Linked DNA regions of Homo sapiens. The protein of the gene in region 2 purifies or fractionates together with the protein of the main gene of each other region. This does not show direct contact. Each region holds a gene or a part of one and is shown on either strand. Other genes may lie near its edges. The genes, in order: TMEM68, TMEM169, ABCB1, GHDC, RABEPK, LEMD2 and RTN4.

What was found.
Region 1: the proteins of TMEM169 (region 2) and TMEM68 purify together in Homo sapiens (co-immunoprecipitation; 2 studies listed by BioGRID and IntAct, with this or other methods). This does not show direct contact.
Region 3: the proteins of TMEM169 (region 2) and ABCB1 purify together in Homo sapiens (co-immunoprecipitation; 2 studies listed by BioGRID and IntAct, with this or other methods). This does not show direct contact.
Region 4: the proteins of TMEM169 (region 2) and GHDC purify together in Homo sapiens (co-immunoprecipitation; 2 studies listed by BioGRID and IntAct, with this or other methods). This does not show direct contact.
Region 5: the proteins of TMEM169 (region 2) and RABEPK purify together in Homo sapiens (co-immunoprecipitation; 2 studies listed by BioGRID and IntAct, with this or other methods). This does not show direct contact.
Region 6: the proteins of TMEM169 (region 2) and LEMD2 purify together in Homo sapiens (co-immunoprecipitation; 2 studies listed by BioGRID and IntAct, with this or other methods). This does not show direct contact.
Region 7: the proteins of TMEM169 (region 2) and RTN4 purify together in Homo sapiens (co-immunoprecipitation; 2 studies listed by BioGRID and IntAct, with this or other methods). This does not show direct contact.

The regions. Positions count from the first base shown.
Region 1 is NC_000008.11:55,763,379-55,766,878, reverse strand, and holds part of TMEM68 (DGAT1/2-independent enzyme synthesizing storage lipids), read left to right. Parts: intron 1-2,898; 5' UTR 2,899-2,943; intron 2,944-3,500. UniProt on the Homo sapiens protein: Catalytic subunit of the alternative triglyceride biosynthesis pathway, which mediates formation of triacylglycerol from diacylglycerol and membrane phospholipids.
Region 2 is NC_000002.12:216,095,419-216,098,918, reverse strand, and holds part of TMEM169 (transmembrane protein 169), read right to left. Parts: intron 3,082-3,500; 5' UTR 2,956-3,081; coding exon 2,685-2,955; intron 1-2,684.
Region 3 is NC_000007.14:87,513,885-87,517,384, forward strand, and holds part of ABCB1 (ATP-dependent translocase ABCB1), read right to left. Parts: intron 2,782-3,500; coding exon 2,625-2,781; intron 1,545-2,624; coding exon 1,347-1,544; intron 1-1,346. UniProt on the Homo sapiens protein: Translocates drugs and phospholipids across the membrane. Catalyzes the flop of phospholipids from the cytoplasmic to the exoplasmic leaflet of the apical membrane.
Region 4 is NC_000017.11:42,188,587-42,191,494, forward strand, and holds the end of GHDC (GH3 domain-containing protein isoform 1 precursor), read right to left. Parts: intron 2,625-2,908; coding exon 2,432-2,624; intron 2,318-2,431; coding exon 2,246-2,317; intron 2,172-2,245; coding exon 2,038-2,171; intron 1,774-2,037; coding exon of another isoform or gene 1,685-1,773; coding exon 1,599-1,684; intron 1,336-1,598; coding exon 1,117-1,335; 3' UTR 501-1,116; downstream 1-500.
Region 5 is NC_000009.12:125,210,542-125,214,041, reverse strand, and holds part of RABEPK (rab9 effector protein with kelch motifs), read right to left. Parts: intron 673-3,500; coding exon 520-672; intron 1-519. UniProt on the Homo sapiens protein: Rab9 effector required for endosome to trans-Golgi network (TGN) transport.
Region 6 is NC_000006.12:33,779,131-33,782,630, reverse strand, and holds part of LEMD2 (LEM domain-containing protein 2), read left to right. Parts: intron 1-1,477; coding exon 1,478-1,554; intron 1,555-2,451; coding exon 2,452-2,531; intron 2,532-3,500. UniProt on the Homo sapiens protein: Nuclear lamina-associated inner nuclear membrane protein that is involved in nuclear structure organization, maintenance of nuclear envelope (NE) integrity and NE reformation after mitosis.
Region 7 is NC_000002.12:55,043,952-55,047,451, reverse strand, and holds part of RTN4 (reticulon-4), read left to right. Parts: intron 1-125; exon of another isoform or gene 126-636; intron 637-3,500. UniProt on the Homo sapiens protein: Required to induce the formation and stabilization of endoplasmic reticulum (ER) tubules. They regulate membrane morphogenesis in the ER by promoting tubular ER production.

The DNA.
Region 1 (3,500 bases), on a different chromosome or scaffold from region 2:
GAAACTGACCATTTCCTACTGCCTTCCCTCTGCCACATGTATGTAAGCCACTTTCATCACTTATTGCAAATATTCCTATTTGCTGCCTGTGTAGTATATTCTCAACACAGCAGCCACTTAAAACCCAAGCCAGGCAACCTCACCCTTCTGCTCAGTGCCCTCTGATGCCTTCTCCATCTCACTTAGATAAAAGCGTGCATAGAGGCCGGGCACGGTGGCTCATGCCTGTAATCCCAGCACTTTGGGAGGCCGAGGCGGGCGGATCACAAGTTCAGGAGATCGAGACCATCCTGGCTAACATGGTGAAACCCTGTCTCTACTGAAAATACAAAAAATTAGCCGGGCGTGGTGGCGGGCACCTTTAGTCCCAACTACTCGGGAGGCTGAGGCAGGAGAATGGTGTGAACCCGGGAGGCGGAGATTGCAGTGAGTGGAGATCACGCCACTGCACTCCAGCCTGGGCAACAGAGCCAGACTCCATCTCAAAAAAAAAAAAAAAAAAAAAGCGTGCATAGAAAGCTCTACAGTGTTGCCTCTCTGGTCCATTTCCAAGTGCCCTCCCTGTCACTTTCTCAGCCTGGCATCCTTGCTGCTCCTCAGGCCACACCAAGTGCACATATTTTGCACTTGCTGTTCATTTAGCTAGGAAGTTTGCTTCCTTCCTTCCTCCCTCAGGTTTCTGCTGAAAAATATCTTTTAGAGAAGTCTTCCCAGAATGCCTTATATAACATAGCAACCTCCTCCTTTCCCCTACTCCCGTGCCTGACATAGAACTCCATATTCTTCTTACACTGCTGTTTATCTTTCTCCCTAGCACCTGTCATCATCTGACCTAGCATGTATTTACTAGTTCTTTGTTTACTGTCTATCTTCCCCCTCTAGGATGTAAGTCACTTGAGGTTGTAGACTTTGCTTTATTTGCTGCTGAGGAAATGGGTGGTACATATTAGGGTACATAGGTGCTAAATAGGTCTTTATAGAATGATTTATCATCTTCATTTTCAGAGAAACAATGAGACACAGAGAGGTGTAACTTGCTTAAGATTGTAAAGCCAGTATTCCAGTATGTTCAGTCTGGCTCCTAAGCCCATTCATGTCATCCACTGTGTTCCCGAAACAGACTGAAAGGATAGGCTATGTCTTAGCCCACCTCATGAAAGTTAATAAGCAGATGAGATGTATAATCTTTGCTGGGCTCAAAAAGGTTTTTTTCAAGTGTAGTTTGTAGAGATGTAGAAAATAGTAGCATATTTTTAGCTGAATGAGTCAGTATGATCGAGTTACCAAAAAAGCTGCTGTGATTCTATGAATGATAGCGATAGCAAACATGTAACACTGATTACATGTAAGGTATTCTAGGCTCTTTACACAGATTAGCCCATGTAATCACAGTAATCTCATGAGGTAGTTAGGATTATTATCCTAGTTTTATAGGTTTTAGCAAACGGAGGCACAGGGGTTACCGTACATGGTGTTGTCAGTATCAGATAACTGGAGTCAGCAACTCGGAGTGGTCTTGAGTGCTGAAAGCTTAAGAAACCAGGGGCTGAGAAGTAGTTGAAAGAATTAAGGATTCTGACTGGAGAAGGAATTTTGTGGCTCATGGCAGCTGTTTTTAAACTTACAAGGTTGTTTAATGGAAGAGGGTCTGTGGTACAAAACTAGGTCCAGTAGGGAAAAGTTACGGGGAAGTTAAGTATAAGGAAGACCTTTTTAGTAGTTCTGATGGATGGTTGCTATGTTGCATTCTAAATGATCAAACATGGGTAAATTATAGTGATTTGACTTTTTTTATTTTTATTTTTTGAGACGGAGTTTCACTCTTGTTGTCCAGGCTGGAGTGCAATGGTGCAATCTCGGCTCGCTGCAACCTCCGCCTCCCAGGTTCAAGCGTTTCTCCTGCCTCAGCCTCCCGAGTAGCTGGGACTACAGGCGTGCACCACCACTCCCAGCTAATTTTATATTTTTAGTAGAGATGGAGTTTCACCATGTTGGTCAGGCTGGTCTCAAACCCCCGACCTCAGGTGATCCACCTGCCTTGGCCTCCCAAAGTGCTGGGATTACAAGAGTGAGCCACTGCGCCCAGCTGGTGATTTGACTTTTTATATGGATTGATTAGATGATGATGTAAATAAAGCCCAAGTTGTGGGCTCAATGTTTGCTATGTTCATCTCCTGTAACCATAACAGACCAGATTTCTCACAAGTAAATGCTATTGGTTACAAGGAAGTTAGATGAAATGTTTCATTCCTGGGAGAACAAGTCAGTGCCTGCCCTCCTAATAAGCCAGTTAGCAAGATAATCTTAGAATAAAAACAATACATTTTTCTTATATGTACATCTCCTCCTCTCCTTTCATCCTTTGCTTTCATTTATTCATTTTTTGCCTCAGCTACAAAGGACTTGAGATAATTTTCAGTAAGATTATATAGTATGGAATAATGATAAAATAGTTCTAAGAATACAATCAAAGTATGGAGAAAGGAAATCTTTTGTAGGAAAATATTATCATAGGGCTAATATAATTGTATAATTGAATGTTATGTTTCACCTTCAGGTTATCTGGCAAAGTTACTAAAAAGAATCATAGTCAGTTATATATCTTCATACTTTTTCTCCTAAGAAACAAAGCTTTTGAAAACTTTGTTTAAAATAAATTCTTAGGTGGGGCTCTATATAGTGGCACTAAACAGTGTAGAGTTGTCTTCACCAAAGCAATGGTAGCATGAGTGTACTTTTTAATTGTAATATACCAGTGTGGGCCTATAATCATATTTCTTAAACATTTATGAATGTCTCTTGCTGTTTATTTTATAGAAATGCTAACTCTAGGTATTAATGATTATCTTTTTTTTTCTTAGTAATTTATTTCTTACATTTGTTTACTGTGCTTTCCAGAATAGAGACATTGAAGTTTGGGACAAGATATTTATCTAACTTCTGGTAAGTCCAATGACTGTTTTAGAGAGTGAATTTGTAAAATAATTATACAGCTATATTTTCAGTCATTTAAGATTTAAGATAAAAACAGTACTGATAAATTTTTATTGCATAATGAACTTTTGTAAATCTGTTTCTCTATAAAAAAACAATATCCATTAATGTATGTAATCATTTCGTAAAGAATTGGGTTACTTTTACTGAATTAGGTAGATATTGATGTTTTCTTTTGTGCAGAGTTATCTCAATATGGCTGGGCATGGTGGCTGATGCCTGTAATCTCAGCACTTTGGGAGGCTGAGGTGGGTGGACCACTTGAGGTCAGGAGTTTGGGACCAGCCTGGCCAACATAGTGAAACCCTGTCTCTACTAAAAATACAAAAATTAGCCAGGCATGGTGGCACATGCCTGTAGTCCCAGCTGCTCGGGATGCTGAGGCAGGAGGATTACCTGAACCTGGGAGGCAGAGGTTTCAGTGACTGAGATCGTGCCACTGTACTCCAGCCCGAGCAAAAGGGTGAGACTCCATCTCAAAGAAGAAAAAAAAATTATCTCAATGT
Region 2 (3,500 bases):
ACATACCACACTACACATACCACATACATACCACGCACACATACGTACACCATATACTCCCCCATACCATACCACCCACGCCTATCCACACACACACCACACATTACACACACACACCATACGACACACACAAACAGCGCACACACCCCCACATACACCACACCCACACCGCACACCACACATACACACACACACACACACACAACGCACCCACACAGAACCAAATAGCTATCTGCTGGCCACCCTAGAAGTCTGGGTGGGGATGGGAAAATACAGCCTTTAGGCAGGCATGGACCTTGGGCCCTGTGGACTCCTTGCCCCACAACTGAGAGATAAGATGAAGCCACCTAAAGAGCAGGGCCCTGGATAGTGGCAGGGACTCTGTTTACCCAGAGAAAAGGAATGTGCAGTCTCCCAAGCCCTGTCTTTTCACAGTCTTCATCACAGCAAACACCACCACCATCTATCCTCCCTGTCATTCCAGTCAATCACCCAGGAGTCATTATTGATTCCTCTCTTTCCCTCACTCCCTGCCTCTGATCAATCAGCAAGTTCAGATTGCATCCTGAATCCAGCTTCTCTTCTCCAGCTTTCTCCTGCTATCACCCGAACTTCTCCATTAGTGCTACTGAGGCTGCAGGGACACAATAGTCTCCCATCAGCATCCAGTCTTAACCCTTATAATTCATTCTTTATAGAGAAGCCAGAGTGATCTTTTACAAATATAAACAAGATGATGTCTCTTTGCTTAAAAGTCCTCCATTGACTTCCTCTTGCACTTGAAACAAATATCAAACTCTTTACCGAGACCTGCAAGGGCCACCATGATCCAGCCTCTGCCTACCTTCCTGTCCTCCTCTCACCATCCTCCCTCTTATCTCCTACACTCCCTACACTGAAATAACTCCTTTCCATAAATGGGCCAAAGCTGCTCTCACCTCAGAGGCTTTGCCCTTGCTGTTCCACCTCCTCCAAAAACTCTGCCCTAGAACTTTTCATGGTGGCTCCCTCATGTCATTTGGATCAATTCAAATGTCACCTCCTCAGAGAAGCCTTTCACAACCATGCAGTCTCTCCCCCACCACCTTCCACCCTCCACCAGTACTCATCTTCCCATCAGCATGGTTTTGTCATCTTTAGAACTCATACTACTACCTGAAAGTATCTTTTATTTGTTGACTTGTTCACTATCTGTCTTTCCCTGAAGGTCAACTGCAGGAGAGCAGAGAAATTGCTTATCTTGTTCACTGTGAGCATATGTCTTAGAGATCTATCCATCTACACAAATAGATCTGCCTCATCTCTCTACGGCTGCACAATAATAATAATTATTATTATTTTTTCGAGATGTTGTCTTGCTCTGTCACCCAGGCTGGAGTGCAGTGGCAGGATTTCGACTTGCTGCAACCTCTGCATTCTAGAAACACAGATTCTCCACCTCCCAGGTTAAAGCAATTCTTGTGCCTCGGCCTTTGAAGTAGCTGGGACCTCAGGCATGCCCCAGCACACCCTGCTAATTTTTGTATTTTTAGTAGAGACGGGGTTTCACCATGTTGGCCAGTCTCAAACTCCTGTTGTTGGTCTCAAAGTCCTGACCCCACGTGATCTGCCTGCCTTGGCCTCACAAAGTGCTGGGATTATAGGTGTGAGCCACCGTGCCCAGCCTCCACAATAATTCTTAATACAAACACATCATGGTTGCATTAGCTTCAACAAATGTTCTTATATATGCCTCCTTATACAAGGATAACATGGGCATAAGTTTCATGGAGTAGATATTGAGAATTTCTGGGTCATGAGGTATGCATGTTTTGAACTGTGAATTTTACTAAATATTTAATAAACGTTGACAAGTTTCCTCCACAAAGTGGTTGAAGCGGCTTCCACTTTCACTAAGGTGCATGAAGTATATCCATTTGCTCATATTGATGTAATCACATTTTACCCAATTTTTGGCAAGCCTACATGTGAAGGAATACTATATCTCATTGTTGTCATAATTTGCCATATGATTTTCTTCTGGCAAATTTTCTCATAATTTTCTTTATTCATATGAAAGTCAACAATTATTGTTTATTTTACATACATTAAGTAGTTAGCATAGTCTGCTTGTGTTACCAGTTTTTGCGTATAAATCAGCCTCTTCCATTTCATTAGGAATTCTGAAAGGGTGGAGATTTCTGTATCATCTAGAAAAAAATGTAATAGGTGCTCAGTAAATACTGACCATTTGTTGAATGAAGACTGTAATATTGCACCAGGTCAGTGGCTCATGCCTATAATCCCAGCACTTTGGGAGGCTGAGGCAGGTGGATCACTTGAGGCCAGGAGTTCGAGACCAACCTGGACAACATGGTGAAACCCAGTCTCTACTAAAAATACAAAAACTAGCCCGGCATGGTGGCACATGCCTGTAGTCCCAGCTACTCAGGAGGCTGAGGCAGGAAAGTCACTTGAACCCAGAAGGTGGAAGTTGCAGTGAGGCGACATCATGCCACTGCACTCCAGCCTGGGTGACAGAACAAGACTCTGTCTCAAAATAAATAAATAAAAGGTGGTAATATTGCAAGAAGAAATGTATCACCAAGAAGAAATAGGACAGTGAGCATATGCCTGTCTGTTCTGGAAGATGCCCTTTTGGTTTCCTTCCCATGGCTTTAAACAAGTGGGCTAGAGAGACTTACCATCATCCACAGGATAGTCTAGGAAATCATCTCCCTCCTCCTCTTTAGGCTGATCTCCACCTTCTGATTCTCCGGGCTCCTCATCTGTTTTCTCATTGTCTGAGCGGTAGATGATGATGGATTCTGGGCGTGACTCTTTCCTCTTCTTTTTCCTGTGCCCCATTGTGGATTCCCCATCCAGCGCCAGGGCAGCAGCCACAGCCTTCCTGAGAGAGCCCTGGTGGGGGCTTGGAAGCTGGACCTGGCCTTCTACTGCTGTTGGCTCTTCCATTCCAGACCTGACGTCTACCTATGTCTTATAAAGAGTTGGACTTGTTTGAGTAAACTCACAGTTCACACATCACAGAACTTCTTCCTAGATGGGGCTATGCAAAGATGTCCCAAGGATGCATTCCACCTGAAAGATAGGAAAGCAAAGCCATCAACAGGAAGCAAATGGGGTGAGATGGACAGGAATGTGGGAAACGATCCTCAACTTAGCAGAAGCCTTCCTCTCCCTTTACTTCTTGCAATACTTTATTTTGGGAATGCAATCTAAATCTCTTATAATAGACAGTGAATAAACTTTTGCTACAGTAATATTTTTGTCATTTATACAAACATATAATATTTGGCAAAACCCATGTGAAGGAATACTATATCTCATTGTTGTCATAATTTGCATTTTCCTTATTCATATGAAAGTCAACAATTATTGTTTCTTTATTTTATATACATAAGTAGTTAGCATAGTCTGCTTGTGTTACCGATTTTTGTGTATAAATCAGCCTCTAGTTGGAGCATGCAGAGTATAAGGAAGTTGGGTGAGGAAGCCTT
Region 3 (3,500 bases), on a different chromosome or scaffold from region 2:
TCTGAGAGCTAACATTTCCTCCTCTAATTGCTTTGGCTGTCAGCGACGTCTTTATTTAGAGTCCTGTTTTTAAGTTCACCACAAAATTGAAGGACACAATCAGAGTTCACAGAAAATATAAAGCAAGAGAGTAAAAGTAGGGAACAAGCTTGTAATGATTTAAGAGTAAACTGAATAAAGGCATAACTGTCTTTGAATACAATAACAAACATTTATGAGTAAGAGTGACCGCTGTGAGGAAGTAAAAAGAGTCCTAGACTAAAGATTGAAAACTCTCTTTTCATTTGAGTCATTAAATGCTACCAGCGTCCATACACAGCGGGTGGGCATCCATCTGACTTGTACTAGCAGGCATCCATTCTGATTGGTCAGTGTCCATGCTGTTCCCATTGTTAAGAATTTTAAATATCACTTCTCAGTACAACTAATTACATGCCTACATAATGAAAATGTCTTGCTCTTAATTCTATTCCTTCCTAGTTTGTCTTCTTTCCTATCCCCCATCATAGTCGTTTAAACTCACTACTCCCTGCCAGACACTTCCCTCATCCCCAGCAACTAAGACAAAAGGGCATACTTCCATGTTCTTTTTACATTTCCCAAATTTGTTGATTCTACTTTTTTTTCCTCAGATGATGTTTCAATGCCCTCTCTCCATCAATGATTTTGTCTCATCCCCAGTCATAAAAATGCTCAAGAGTTCAACCCCTAAACATTTTCCCTGGACTCTGCCTCCCCACTCAAGTGCTGTCCTTATTTGCCTTTCTTTTACTTTCCATCTTCTTGATAATCTATGCTCACTTACATCTCCATTTCTTCCCCTAATCATACTTCAGCCACCCTTAACTGTTTCCTACCATCACTACTTCACTAAGAATATTTTAAAATGTCAGAAATAGCCCATTCATTGCTAGATTCTATCATGTCTTCTCAGTCTCCTCCTTACCCAATCTCTCTATACCATCTGTCATTGCTGACCACCATCTTTGAAACAGTCTCCATCCTTGGCTTTCATCTCACTCCTAGCACCTGTCCTGTATCTTTCTGGCTACTTCCATTTTTGTTGGTTCTTTTCAAGTCAGCTGAAACCTAAGTACAGCAAGGGAGACAGGTGGTACAAAGGGTGCTTGCAAAGGAGGGTAGAGGGGTAGTGTTGAGGGGAGCCTGGAGAAGTTGGCTGGGACAGATGACACCACTTGGAGACCATATTTAGGCTCTCAGACTTTATCCAAGTGGGACTGTTGTTTAAAGGTTTGAAAAAACATGGCTTATAGTTGAGAATTAAATACATTCAGACATTTGGATGATGAAAACCTGAACTGAGCTAAATGTGAAAGTGTGCTCACCACTTTCCCTGCCAAGGGGTCGTAGAACCGCTCCAGGAGCTGGACCACTGTGCTCTTCCCACAGCCACTGCTGCCCACCAGAGCCAGCGTCTGGCCCTTCTTCACCTCCAGGCTCAGTCCCTGAAGCACTGGGATGTCCGGTCGGGTGGGATAGTTGAATACAACTTCACCAAATGTGACATTTCCTTCCAATGTGTTCTGCAATGAGAAGAATAACAGTAAATTTGAATGCTGCAATACTGAAAATAAAGTGTATAGCTAACTCTCTCGATTACCAGGTGTCAGAAGATAATTAATTTGTGTTACAATTGGCTTCACTTCAAACTGCTAGAATTTATTTTATTTTAATTTTATTATTTATTTATTTTTTATTTTTTTGAGACAGAGTCTCACTCTGTCACCCAGGCTGGAGTGCAGTGGCATGATCTCAGCTCACTGCAACCTCCACCCCCCAGGTTCAAGCAATTCTCGTACCTCAGCCTCCCAAGTAGCTGGGATTACAGGCGTGTGCCACCACACCCAGCTAATCTTTTTTTTTTTATTTTTATTTGAGATGGAGTTTCACCATATTGGCCAAGCTGGTCTCGAACTCCTGACCTCACGTGATCCACCCACCTTGGCCTCCCAAAGTGCTGGGATTACAGGCATGAGCCACTGTGCTTGACCTCAGACTGCTAGAATTTAATAAATGAGATCTAAAAGAGTAAAAGCTTTCATAGCATGTATTGTTAAGACAATATGAATATGCAATACAGCTACAATAACTCAAATCTGTTCCTCAGGAATACAGTAACTTACATACAATAAAATCTGATAACCAGCCTGGGCAACATAACGAGACCCTGTCTCTACAAATAATTAAAAAATTAGCTGGGCATGATGGCACACGCTTGTAGTCCCAGTTACTTGGGAGGCTGAGGCAGGAGGATCGCTTGAGCCCAGAAGATCAAGGCTGCAGTGAGCTATGATCATACTGCTGCACTCCAGCCTGGATGACAGAGTAAGACTCTGTCTCTAAAAAAAAATTGTTTTTAAAAAATCTGATTAATAGGTTTTGCTTATAAAGTGAGCAGTATTCCTATTTCCCTATAACCTTTGCTACGTAAAAGTACTGAATGTTGATGTATATTATTAGCAGTAATTGAAAGGAATCTATGATCTAGGAAGTTTTATTTTATCATCAGCATATTTGAAAGTACAAATTTTATTAAGTTTCCACTTAAAATACTTTCATTCAGGAGTCAGGAGTAGATCAAACAGTTGAAACATCAAACTCACCGGCATTAGGCCTTCCGTGCTGTAGCTGTCAATCAAAGGGGTTTTTTCAATGATCATGATGATGTGGGCTGCTGATATTTTGGCTTTGGCATAGTCAGGAGCAAATGAACTGACTTGCCCCACGGCCATGGCACCAAAGACAACAGCTGAAAATACTCTGGAAAGCACAAACACAAAACATGTGCACAGCATTACCATCACAATGCTAGAAAGCTGACACTCCTTTTTTTTTTTTTTTTTTTTTTTGAGGTGGGGTCTTCCTGTGTTGCCCAGGCTGGAGTGCAGTAGTGCAATCAGAGCTCACTAAAGATATGATCTCCAGGGCTTAAGCGATCTTCCCACCTCAGCCTCTGTAGTAGCTGGGACTACAACTGTGCATGACCACACCAGCTAATTGTTTTATTTTTTGTAGAGATGGGGGTCTCCCTATATTGCCCAGGCTGGTCTCGAACTACCGGGCTGAAGTGAACCTCCTGCTTCAGCCTCCAAAAGTGCCGGGATTATAGGTGTGAGCCACCATGCCTGGCCAAAAGTTGACACTTCTATAACCAGAGAGCTTTGCCTCTAATAGTTATAAAACAGATGTTAAAAATAAAACAAACACATTTCCTTATAAGTTCATGTCTATGTGATAGATTGATTGCAAAATGGCCCATTTTTTTCCCTCTGTATACCTCTCTCTGTATCCTCATCTTCTTGCACTGTGACCTTTGCAGCACCCTTTGAATCTGGGCTGGCCTTGTGACTTGCTTTGGCCAACAGGATATGGTGGAAATCACTTTTGCCAGTTCCAAGCCTATGACTCAGGGGGCCTTATATGCTTTGTGAGCATGCATGCATGTGTTCTCTCTCTCTTTCTCTCTCTCTCTCTCAGAA
Region 4 (2,908 bases), on a different chromosome or scaffold from region 2:
CCAGGACCTGGGTGTGGGACATGGAATGGAGAAGCTATTCAGAGGCATCTGGATCCAGTGCTGCCTCTACTGAGGAGGAGCTGAGGTCTGCCCCTCCCATCAGCCTCCAAGATGGAAAACCTTAAAACTCCAGTCCAGGCAGTGGGAGGGAAGGAAGCCAAAATCTAGCCCAGTTTCTTTCTTTCTTTTATTTTAGCCTCTACAACCTTGTGGAGGCTGCGTTTCCTCATTAGTATGGAACAGTGAACCCAGATGGTCTCCGGAGTTGCTTCCTGCGGCGATGCCTTATGATGTGAAGTAATAGCTCTCCCTTCCCCACCGCAGAAGTGGTTTGTGGGTGCTGGCCTAGGATGTGCCACGAGTCCTCCAAGGCTCCTGTGTGCGCATGCAGCCTTGCCAGGCCCAGAGCAGAATGTTGGGGGAAAGTCCTGGAGCTCAGTGGGGGAATGGCTGGGCCGGGGTCCACTCCCGTTTCCCCAAAGCAGACCCTGAGGCAAGAATCTGGGTGCAAGAGGTTTATTTGGGAGCCATCCCAGGAAGCCCAAGGCGGGGGAGTGGGGAAGAGAGGGAAGGGAGAGCCCCCGCAGGAAGTACATGAATGAGTGGGTTACTGCTGCGGGCAACTGGGACTCCATCCTGCTGGGCATCCTCTGAGAGTTTATGTAGAATACACTTCAGAATTGTCCTGCTCAAGGACAATGAAGCTGAGGTCCTGCTCCTTATTGACTCAGGGTTGCTGCTCCTGGGGACATTAACCCCCCAACACTTCTAGCTTGCCCAGTGCACTGACTGAGCACACAGCTGTGGCCACCAGAGAACCTCTTTGGGCTGTGATACAGGAAACCATCGGTGTGCATGGTAACTCTCTAGCAGTGTCCTTCATGCCGGGACATGGGGACACGGGCAGGCACTGCTGGCATCTGCTAACCCCGGAGGCCCATACTTCAGAACCGGTCAGCTGGGCCAAGGCCTCTCTAAGGCCCAGCGGCTCTCATGGGCAAATGTCAGGTGACACAGAGTCAGAGACCCTGGCCAAGGACTCCCCATCCGGAGAGGTCCCAGAGGGAGGGGCGAGGTGGCCTCTGGGGGGAGCTGGGCGGTGGGGCAGGACTTGACTCAGGACACCACCCTCTCCTGCAGACACTGGGCCAGGTGCCTGTGCCGAAGGACCCGGGGCATCGCAGGGGGGAAGGGGGAGGAGGGGCAGGCAGCGAGGGCTGCCCGGAGTGCTCGGAAGGCTCCCTGCCCCACCAGGTGGACTCTGGCAGGGCCCACGCTGCCCCAGAACCGCAGGGACTTGTAGCGGGGAGAGGCTTCCTGAAGGCAGTGGTCCAGCTGGGAACAGAACAGCCTGAGTGAGCTGGTGTGTGACTGTGAGTGTGCACACGAGGCGTGTGTGGCTGTGCCCAGGCTACATGTGTTTAGAAGTTTTGTGTGGACAGGTGTGTGTCTGTGGGACTTAGCCCTCCCCTCCCAGAGCCCCAGGGAGCTTCTCCTCCGCCACCCCTCTCCTTCCCATCAGCCCTGATCTCCATGGCACCCTGGGAGTGTGCAGAGTGAAGGGGTCTACAGTCAGACCCTGTCCTCGTCTCCTTTACCTTGTCTCGATTTTCCTCTGACAGATTCCTCAGCCCCCTCAGCGCCACAAACACCTCGTAGTGGGGAGCAGAGCCCGCAGAGGAATCTGTGAATAGACCCCATGTGCACACATACTTCCGGTGAATGGGCAGCTGCCAAGTCTAGTGTCCTCTGCCCTATCTGTTCTTCCCCACTCTGAGATTCATAGGGAAAAAAGAGTTTCTTGGTGGGGAGTGGGGTAAATGGAGAGGAACCTAGAGCTTGATCCTAAATAGGAGACAGATCAGGAAAGAAAATGGGTAGAGACTGCAGCAGGATGGATGAGAGTTAGATGCAGAGAAGGACTTTTGTAGGAGTAGTAAAGGAGGCTTATCTCTTTCCTAGCAGTCCCCTGGCAGGGGAGGTAGGAGTTGAAGGGTAGCTCAAGGATGGTAGGCAGGAGCCGGTGGGGAGGCTCACCCAGAATGCTGCTCTCCACACAGCCATGGTCCAGCAGCTTGGCCCCCGCCCACTGCCCCACTGCCCGGCCCAGGGCCTCAGAGAACAGGTCTTCACCAATATCTTCCCCTCGCACACTCAGGGTCTGGTCCAGCCTGAAGAGGAGGAAGGGAGAGGCAGTGGAGCCCAGGACACAAGGATGGCCCTTCAGCTCCCCGGGGTCACCTACCTGCAGATGAACCTGACGACTGGACACTGATTGTAGGCACCAACCACTCGCACCACATCACCCAGGCGGCACCTGATGGGGTGCAAGTGGGAGTGAGGTCGGGCCCAAGGTCTTCTGAGCTCATGCCCCAGGCCCCCAGCACGGTCCCATAGGGCCCCAGGTAGCAGGGGCTGTGCAGCTGATCACCTGGTGAGGCTGGCGCGGTCCGTCAGCACCAGCTCATACTCCTTGCCCTGCTGGGCCTCGGCCAAAAGGAGGGTGGAGGCAGCTTCCTCCTGGGTGCCTTCCTTGACTGGGAGCAGCTCGATAAAGGGGGCCCCAGGGGGCAGAAGGTAGAGCCCATGGGGCTGCTCTGGCTGTAGGTTTAGGCCCAGCACCCCTGTGAAAGCAAAGCAGCCTCCTCAGCGTCTGCTGGTGCCATCGCTTTCTGCCAGGCAATAGCCCCTCCTGGATCCCAGGCCTGATCCTCTGAGCACCTGATCCTCCTGCTGCCCTTCCACCACATCCTTCCTGGCTCCCCCAGCCTCAGCGGGCTGCCTCTTAGGCCCTCACTGGAAAGAGGCAGAGTGCTGTGGTCCTGGAGGGGGCAGACTTGGGAGTGAATCCTGGTGCCACATGAATTTGTGCAAGACTCTTTTTTTTTTTGAGACAGAGTCTCGCTCT
Region 5 (3,500 bases), on a different chromosome or scaffold from region 2:
CAAGCGATTCTCCTGCCTCAGCCTCTTGAGTAGCTGGGATTATAGGCGCCCACCACTACACCCAGCTAATTTTTCTATTTTTAATAGAGATGGGGGTTTTACCATGCTGGCCAGGCCAATCTCAAACTCCTGACCTCAAGTGATCTGCCTTCTTCAGCCTCCCAAAGTACTGGGATTACAGGCATGGGCCACCATGCCCGGCCTCTTGTGACTTTAGGAAAGTCACTTTGCCCTTGATAAACCTGAGTAGCCCACTTGATATAGCTGTTCTCTGAAGTCCCTTCCAGCTTTGACATTTAACAAGTTAAAAATTGTATGTGTTACCAACAATTGTTTTTATTCTGTTGTTTTCAGATTATGCTACAAGTTAAAATTCCTATTTTCTATGTCAGCAAAGTTAAATGGTAATTAGTATAATCCAAATGTACTGGAATTATAATTGGATTTATATATATGTGTGTGTGTGTGCATGAAAGTTTATTTGTATGTACGTAAATAAAATAACCTTTGGCTACTTACCAGGATTCAGGACTTGTAGACAATTTCGATTTCCTGATTGGTTGGCACCTCCAAATACCCAGATACGGTCAGGTGTGCAGGAGGGAATGAAGCTAGCATGTTCATACCGGGGCAAGAGGCCCTTGCAGGTATCTAAGTCCCACTGGTGTTTTCCTGGAAAACATTTCACCCAGTTCCTAGATTGGGGCTGCCAATTATTATATTGGTTGGCACACTTGAGGAGGGTCATGAGAAGAGGGCCATAAACATAAATGAAAACCACTGAATCACTTAAAGGGCATGTTGTCAACCTCCAGAAAATTCTATAATAGATACTTAGGGGGCTGTCTGCCTAGTCCATAGACCCCGTTCTATGGAAACTGTCCCCACTTTGTCAACCACAAGGATAGATCCCAGATGACATGTTTGTACTATGCTTTGACTTTGTAGCTTTAGCTGATTGGGTTGAAGGTAGCCAATGAAACCAGAATGAGCCAACCAGATCAAGTGCTTCCACTTTCTCATGATCCTGGGCTCTACTTCCTGTCCTTGAATTCTTTGAAACACGCCTGTATTGGCCAGGTGCAGTGGCTCACGCCTGTAATCCGAGCACTTTGGGAGGCCCAGGTGGGCGGATCACGAGGTCAGGAGATCGAATCCATCCTGGCCAACATGGTGAAACCTCATCTCTACTAAAATACAAAAAATTAGCCAAGCATAGTGGCACGTGCCTGTAGTCCCAGCTACTCGGGAGGCTGAGGTAGGGGACTCGCTTGAACCCAGGGTTATTTTACTTGGTAAACCAAGCGGAGGTTGCAGCAAGCCAAGATTGTGCCACTGTACTCCAGTCTGGGAACACAGCAACACTCTGTCTCAAAAAAAAAAAAAAGAAAGAAAGAAAGAAACACGCCTGTATCTGACTAAATAAATTCCCCCTTTTTCCTCTGGTTTAAGTGAGATTCTGTTACTTGCAAATAAATGATGGCTGGCTAAGACAAGTTCACAGAATAGTAATACCTAACCTTGGTCAGGCGCTGTGGCTCATGCCTGTAATCCCAGCACTTTGGGAGGCCGAGGTGGGCGGATCATGAGGTCAGGAGATCAAGACCATCCTGGCTAACATGGTGAAACCCTGTCTCTACTAAAAATACAAAAAATTAGCTGGGCGCGATGGCAGGCGCCTGTAGTCCCAGCTGCTTGGGAGGCTGAGGCAGGAGAATGGCATTAACCCGGGAGGTGGAGCTTGCAGTGAGCTGAGATTGCGCTCCAGCCTGGGTGACACAGTAAGACTCCGTCTCAAAAAACAAACAAACAAACAAAAAACCCTAACCTTTATTATTAACAATTATTTTACTTGGTTAACCAATTACACAAGACCTTTACAGGCATTATCTTGTTAGATCTGAAGCAAGTTATTATCCCTACTTTATAGAGCACTGAGGTCCAGATGGTTGAGATGGTGTAGCCAGGGTCACAAAGCTATTAATAGGTTGCAATAAAGATGTAAGTTGAACTAATTTAATGTAATTGAGGGCTAGAAGTGATTTAATTTACCTTTGAATTTTTTTTTTTTTTGAGATGGAGTCTTGCTCTGTTGCCCAGGCTGGAGCGCACTGGCGCGATCTCGGCTCACTGCAACCTCTGCCTCCCAGGTTCAAGCAATTCTCCTGCCTCAGCCTCCCAAGTAGCTGGGATTAAAAGTGTGAGCTACTATGCCTGGCTAATTTTTGTATTTTTAGTAGAGATGGGGGTTTCACCATATTGGCCGGGCTGGCCTCAAACTCCTGACCTCAAGTGACCCACCCGCCTTGGCCTCCCAAGGTGCTGGGGGATTACACCTCGTCCAGCCTACCTTTGATTTTTTTAGTGCAGGGAGTAGAAATTCAAATGCCTAGGTGGGAGTAACAAAAACTGTGGCAAACTGGAGAATAAGAGCCCTCTTGATAGGTGGCAGCTCAGTTCCAAATAATTGTTGCCATGTAGACAGGGAGGCCTACTGACATTAGATTTTCCAACATTATCAAGAGAAGCCAAACCATTTAAATTTTTATATGTAGATTTCTGCATAATTGGTTGGTAAACAATTTAAGATTATGCTGGGCGTGGTGGCTCACGCATGTAATCCCAGCACTTGGGGAGGCCGAGGTGGGTGGATCACTTGAGGTTAGGAGTTCAAGACCCTCCTGGCCAACATGGTGAAAACCCATCTCTACTAAAAATACAAAAATTAGCGGGGCATGGTGGCACGTGCCTGTAGTTCCAGCTACTTGGGAGTATGAGGCAGGAGAATCACTTTCTTTTTTTTTTGAGATGGCGTCTCGCCCTATCACCCAGGCTGGAGTGCAGTGGCGCGATCTCGGCTCACTGCAAGCTCTGCCTCCCGGGTTCATGCCATTCTCCTGCCTCAGCCTCCCGAGTAGCTGGGACTACAGGCGCCCGCCACCACGCCTGGCTAATTTTTTTTTTTATTTTTAGTAGAGATGGGTTTTCACCGTGTTAGCCAGGATGGTCTCAATCTCCTGACCTCGTGATCCGCCCACCTCGGCCTCCCAAAGTGCTGGGATTACAGCATGGTGAGCCACCATGCCCGGCCCAGGAGAATCACTTTAACCCAGGAGGCAGAGGTTGCAGTGAGCCAAGATCGTGCCTCTGCACTCCAGCCTGGGTGACAGTTTGAGACTCCATTTCAAAAAAAAAAACAAAACTTAAGATTAAAACAATAGGGAAATGTTACATGGACCTAACAAAATACGTAAGTGGGTCACCATTGTTCAACTTCTGCCCTTGTGTAGAGCAAAGAATAATCGTTTCTTTTATTTTCTTTTTTTTTTTTTTTTGAGACGGAGTCTTGCTCTGTTGCCAGACTGGAGTGCAGTGGCATAATCTTGGCTCACTGCAACCTCTGCCTCCCAGATGCAAGCAATTCTCCTGCCTCAGCTGGGACTACGGGCACAAGCCATCATGCCCAGCTAATTTTTTTGTATTTTTAGTAGAGACAGGGT
Region 6 (3,500 bases), on a different chromosome or scaffold from region 2:
AGGCACAATGCCTTTTAGCTGGAGCAGTCAGGAGAGCGTCACAGGAGGTAGCATCTGTGCCAGGCCCTGAAGCCCAGGTAAGACTGGTTACATGTATGTGGGGAAGGACAAGGCAAAGCGGCAGGAAATTACATCTCGAGTGGGAAGCAGCACCTTCATGGAGGAAGGGGAAGATGAGAGAATGAAGTTTGGAAGTGTTGGTTGGGCCCTACCATAGATGGCCTTGGATGCCAGGCCACCAGAGCTTGATCTGGCAGGCAGTGAGGGCCAGAGAGGCTTTGAGCAAGGGAGTATCATGCTGAGAGCCAGGTGCCAGGAAGGTGAATGCGGCAGCAGCTTGAGTAGCACAGTTAAGCAGAATCATTTTCAAGTGTTATTGACAAAACAACTGGATTGGGAAAGGGAGAGGAGGAACCGAATCGAGAGGCCATCTACGTGGTCCAGGCAGGCCTGGCAAGGGCAGGAAGAGTCCTAGTGGGAAAAGGAGGATGCTAGAAGCCACCTGTGTCTCAGGGGACCCCTGGGGTCAAGATCAACTTTGAAGTAGGAGGATCTGGCTGTGTTAGGGGAAGGCGACAGGCTTCAGTTCAGTTTCAAAGTTTTAAAATATGACCTTCAGCTGCTCCCTTCCCCAGCATGCAGAAACACACTCACTGGCCACCCGAAGTCCCCCAGGCTGTGCTGGGTCAGGGCAGTCAGGCCACGCACACGTGTTAAATAGTGTATGCGTGCGTGGCCCTGCACCCTCCCTGCTCTCGGGGAGTCAGGCAAACCACAGCACAGGAGCGAGGACCAAGGGCTATGGCAGGTCACCAAATCTGGGGCCATTTCATCAAACAAAAGGCCCCCAGGGGCTGAGGGCTTCCCAGGGGAGATGGCCCCTGGGCTGGACCGGGGAGGTTGGGCAGGACTAAGTGGGAGGCTGCCAGCTCCATCCTATGGGAGCAGGCCTCCAAAGCCACTCGGGGGAGCTGCCCCTTGGCGTGCTGTGCTGAGGCCCCACTGCCCAGCACACAGACATCCTCTTCCTCCAAGGGGCCCCTCAAGACAATAGACCTGGCATTCCAGGTCGCCTGCCTGTGTCATGAGTCAGAATCCCCGTGGTGCCCATGGCCTCCCTGCCTTTCTTTTTTCTCAGGCTGTGTTTATTTATAGTGCCATTCCGGTACCTTCCGAAGCTATCTGTCTGATTCTTTTAGGGATCAATTGCAAAGAGACCTTGCTATTGGGCAGCTTTTTAGTCATTTAATGCAAAATGCCACACTGCTTTGCAGGTCAGGTTTTAATGATCTGGAATCGATCCAAGCTAAGTGGCTTTTGATCTTGCTGCAGAGTGAAGATGCCCCACAGAAGCCAGGAGCCGCTGGGCAACATGCTCCTTATTAGAGCTGATGGCTTGATTCTTGCTGCATTTTTTAGTCTGTTTCAGAGTGATTTTTCCTTTGTGTTTGAGCATGTGTGGTTTTTTTTCTCCTAGGTAATTTTGAGTGTGGAAATCCAGAGAATCTAAAAAGCAAATGCATTCCTGTTATGGAAGCCCAAGAATATATAGCCGTAAGTAGGCTTCAGTGCTTATACATTCCTGGGAGGGCCTGGTGCTTTCCTATTGGTCTTTCAAGCCCTGTTGGGGTTTTTGTTTTTTGTTTGCTTTGTGGCTTTTGTACTAGGCTACCTTAAGTTAAGGTTTGGTTTATGGCTTTTTGTGCTAGACTACCTTCAGTTAAGGCAGCCATGGTAGTGACTGCCCCAGAGCCAGGCCGCCATGTGCAGTGGGGCGGCTCACTCCTGACTGCTGCACTGTAGGTGTGCCTGTTACCTGCTTCTCCCTTGGTTCACTTTGCTCGTCTTGCCTTCGGCTTTCAGGAGAAACATGCTGTCCCTTCTCCCCCGTATGATTACCATTCAGACTGCCCAGGGGCCGTCTGATTTCCTGTGTGGCCTCAGGATGGTAGATTATAGAACTATGGAGCTGGTATTCCAGGTCGCCTGCCTGTCCAGTAACTTAGGGGTCATCTGGTTCCATTTGCATTTCACAGATGAAGAAACTGAGGCCTGGAGAGGGTCAGGGACTTGCCTGAGGCCAGACCACTTGCACCGGCCACTGGGCTCACCCACCCCCAGCCACAACGCTGTTATTCGCTTTACCCTAAGATGAGCTGCCAGCTCTCTGGCCTGATGCTTCCATCCTCGAGAGAATCATATTCTTTTGGCCGCCTCAGACCCGCACTGTTTTCCTGCTTGTGCTTCCGCATCACCTCCTCTGGTTATAGCCTCTTCCTTGGCTTTCATCAACCCCCGATTTCCTTCCTGCCACTTTGCTGTGCTTTTAGCAGAACAGGGTTTTGGGGCTGTGGAGGACACGGGAGAGGGCTTCCTTAATCCAGCAGCAGAATAATGTTCCAGCTGCTCCGCCCAGACGCCGAACTAACCTTCTCCCGCGCCCTCCCACAGAATGTGACCAGCAGCTCCTCCGCCAAGTTTGAAGCCGCACTGACCTGGATACTGAGCAGTAACAAGGACGTGGGCATCTGGTGAGTGTGGGCAGGGTGGCGACGCAGCATGGGTGCCTGCAACCACTGTCCTCGCTCGTCAGCTAACACCCGTGCTCCAACAGAGCTGTCTCAGGTCTGAAGCTGGAGGCTGGGTCTCCCAGCAGAATCATGTGGGTTAGGATGGAAGTGGGGCAACAAAAGCAAGAAGCATTTGGAATGCAGTGTAAGGAGCAGCTTCAAGATGAGACACAAAATCCAGGTGTTAGGATGTTAGCCTGGTGTTCCAGCTAAATCCTGTCTCAGGTAACTCAGTCTGTGCCTTTCTCATTCATCAACAACACCACATGGTTTGTTGGGGAAGGCATTTTTCTGCACTTCCCCTCCTCGGGAGCTAGTTTTTATTTGTAGATGAAATTATTCTTTCTGTATGTTGGTTTTACTTACTATGGAAATCGCATAAGGAAATACTGGATTTTATTCTGACCAGGCAGTTTCTGCCTCATTTTTATCACTGGTGAGCACTGTTAGAAAAGGTAGCAAACCCTTTCATGAGGCTGAAAGGCTGTATCTGGCGGCTCAGCCCAGGGGGAGGGGCGTGTCAGCCAACAGCCAGGCAGCCTTGAGAGACCTGTCCCCTGCTGGCAGAGCAGCATCACTTCCCCACTTCCCACTCTCGGTGTTTGTGGGGGTCTCTGTTCAGGTTATAGCTCTTGATATTAAAACGTCTCTAGAGTTTTGTTCTTTTCCTCTCTAATCCACCCAAATTACTAATTCCATCAGCACTGCATCCAGCAGAAGCCCCTCGGGCAGCTCCACCTCAAGCTGGATAACTGGATGCATGGCACGATTAAAATTTGTTGGCTTAAAAAAAAAAAAAAGCTGCCCTGAGTAGCTGAGCAATTTTCCTGTGTTAGAAAAGGCGGAGGAGAATACGGATTTTATCCTCAGCAGCAGCGCTCACTGAAGCTGCTAACACAGAAGAATGATGACACTCACCTTTTCATGTTG
Region 7 (3,500 bases), about 160 Mb from region 2:
TAGAAGATGAGGAGTAACTCAATCTTTTCCTTTTTCTTTATGAAAAAGACATACTTGAGGGAAACTGAGGTAAGAGAAAAATATGAAATATATTTTTAAACAGGAATTTTTTTTTTTTTTTTTTGAGATAGTCTCCCCCTTGTCACCAGGCTGGAGTGCAATGACGCAATCTTGGCTCACTGCAACCTCCGCCTCCCAGGTTCAAGTGATTCTCCTGCCTCAGCCTCCCGAGTAGCTGGGATTACAGGCGCCTGCCACCACGCCTGGCTAATTTTTGTATTTTTAGTAGAGACGGGATTTTACCATGTTGGCCAGGCTGGTGGTCTTGAACTCCTGACCTCCAGTGATCCACCCACCTTGGCCTCCCAAAGTGTTGGGATTACAGGCATGAGCCACTGCGCCTGGCCACAGGAAGTTTAATGATTGACAAAAGCATACTAATCTTGTATTGGTATGGGAACAAAGAAAATAGTTCTGTCTTTGAACATTAGGGATTCAGGGGGTGACAGCACTCTCTTGGAATCTTGTGTGTTGGAATGCTGAGGTTGGAAGGCAATGGGGAAAGAATATTGCCTGTTCTACAGAGTTCCCTAATTCCATATTGATGATACCTATTGGGAAACTTTAGTTTTTTTAGTAAGTGTAAGAACATTGTGATTATGGTTGTGGATAGTTAACCATTTTCAATGTGTCTGGATTTCTTAATGCATTCAAGAGTTTGTTCATTAATTCAACCCATTATTGATTACCTACCAAGAGACAGGATCTATTCTAAGCTTTGAGGGTATAGCAATAAGCAAGACACATGCTCCCCCTTGGGAGAGTACAGATAATAAGCACATAAATAAAGAACCCAGAATAGTGGTGTTATGAGGAAAATAAACAGGATAATGGCATAGAGAATGATGGGGATTTATGGGGGCTTTTTTAGGTTAGGTGACACTAAGACAGGCTTAGAAGGTGAGATTTGAGCTGCAGAGAGAAAACATTTCCAAGCAACTTCAGGGCAAAACCCTGAGGCAGGAATGAGCTCTTTGTGTCTGAGAATCTAGTGTAAGACTAGTGAGAAAAACTAGTGGGAGAGTGAAGAGGTGGCCTTACCCACCCAGATCATTGGGGGTCTCTAACAGGCAATGGTAAAAATGTTTAGCTTTTTAAAAAAATAAAAATATGCTTATTAAATAATTATATTGTGATTTTGGAACTAAAATAAGTTTGGAAGATTCAGGGCTACTGAGAGGACTGATGTGAGACAAAGGTGAGAAATGTGCAGAGCAGGGTTAGAAGCATAGACTAGCCTGCCTGGAAGAGAGGGTTTCTAGATCACTGACACTTGTCTGTTTAACATTGCTGTTTACGTTATTTATGAGTAAGCCCTGATTTTCATCTGTTAATAAGTTGTAATTTTACTGTTTGCTGTTGTGCCCAGAGCATCTCCATCGCAATGCAGTAACTGAAGTGAGACTAAAACCTCTCACTTGAGGGCCATTTTTCATGGGAAAATACTTGGCTTAGTGGTTGGTTAAGTTAGGCTTTGAGGATATGCGCAGAAAACTCTGGCTAGAAATCGATTTGAGAGCAGTGCAAACATAATTAAGGGTGACTTCGAACTGGTCTCTGGACATGTTCTAAACCAAGGTTAATTAAGACCGAAAATATGTAGATCTGGATTCTGAAAGATACTGAATGCCAAATTAAGGAATTTGGATTTTATCATTCCACTTTAATCCATGCTCTGCTATCCAGTTGCCCTTGCTTTTGGTAATTTATATTATGAAACCAAAATTGTTTTTTTTAATTGTTGTTTCTAAAGTTATTGTTTTTCACCCCTTCTCGAATTAGAGCTTTTGGCTTTGGGAAGACAGCCATTGAAGGTTATTTGAACTGAGGCAAGGCACCGTGAAAGCAGTATTAGAAAATTGGTGACAATATTCAAGATAGGTGGGAAGGAAAAGCAGATGAATTATTTAGAAAGCTATTACAGTAGTTCTGAGAAAGATGAGTAGGGCCTGAACTATTTCATTATTTGTTCATTCAGTGAAAATGGAATAGAAGGGAGGAATATAAGAGTATAAGAAGCACGCTTTCTTTAATTGGCTGTGAATCTGTTTTTATAGTTAGTTTACGAAGAGGCTGTATGAAAGACGAATTGATAGGACTTGGAAACCATGAATGTAAAGACAAAGAAAAGAATATTAGTGCTTATTAAATCAGTTTCAGAGACTGCCAAAATTTAATTGCCATGAAAATTTGTATAAAATTGAATATTGCTCATAAATACAGATTATGGGTTGGGGCTTAAAAATTACTAGTTTTTACTATCATGAAGCCATTTATTATATGATCATTTTTATTGGCGTAGTAGCATGTATTAGAAATTTTAAGATTTTGAGTGACATATGGTTTAAATATTAGGTATCAGTTCTTAATATAAAGTCCAAGTTCCCAGGAAGTGGATGCTTCTAAACACAAGAAAGTCATGCCCTGTCCATTCCCCACTTTCATTTTTGTGATTCTGAATAATTTCTGGTTAAGCCATTTCTTATTTTTAAAAGTTGGGAATAAGTAGTATACTCCTCATGGATATGGTGAATTATGTTTCAGATTGGTTCCTGGGCAACTGAGTGTCAAATTTGTGGTCTTTTTTTTTTTTTTTTTTTTTTTTTAGTGATTTGCAAACTCTCTCAAATCCTTTTTAAAATGAAGTGATGGGTATATGTGGAACCACTGATAAATAACTGCATGGAATAGTGTTTAGAAAACATGCTATTTTAGTGCTATATTATTGTAAACTTAAAGGATTTGCCATGTTATAAAAACATTTCTGAAAAGGAGCATGTTACCTATTGTCCATTAATTGGCTTTGTTTTATGTGTAGTTATTTTCTTTTTAAAAATCTAAAAACCAAAAAACAATGGTCTCACTTTTGTCCAGGCTGGTCTCAAACTTGGGGCCTGAAGCAATCCTCCTGCCTGGACCTCCCAAAGTGCTGGGATTACAGGCATGAGCCACCATGCCTGGCAAGTTTTTTTGTTTGTTTGTTTGTTTGTTTGTTTCTTTTGAGACAGAGTCTTACTCTGTCGCTCAGGCTGGAGTGCAGTGGCATGATTATGGCTCACTATACCCTTGACCTCCTGGGCTTAAGCAGTCCTCCCACTTCAGCCCCCCAGGTAGCTGAGACTACAGGTGCACACCACCATGCTGGCTATTTTTAAAATTTTTTAAAAAAACTTTTATATTTATGTATTTATATTTTGGAGACAGGGTCTTGCTCTTTCACCCAGGCTAAAGTATAGTGGTGCAGTCTTGGCTCACTGCAGCCTCATCTTCTGGGCTCAAGTGATCCTGCCACCTCAGCCTCCCAACTAGCTGGGACCACAGGCACGTACCACCACGCCCGGCTAATTTTTGTGTTTTTCGTGCAGATAGGGTTTCGCCATGTTGCCCAGGCTGGGCTCAAATTCCTGAGGTCAAGCAGTCTTCTCGAAGTGCTGGGTTTA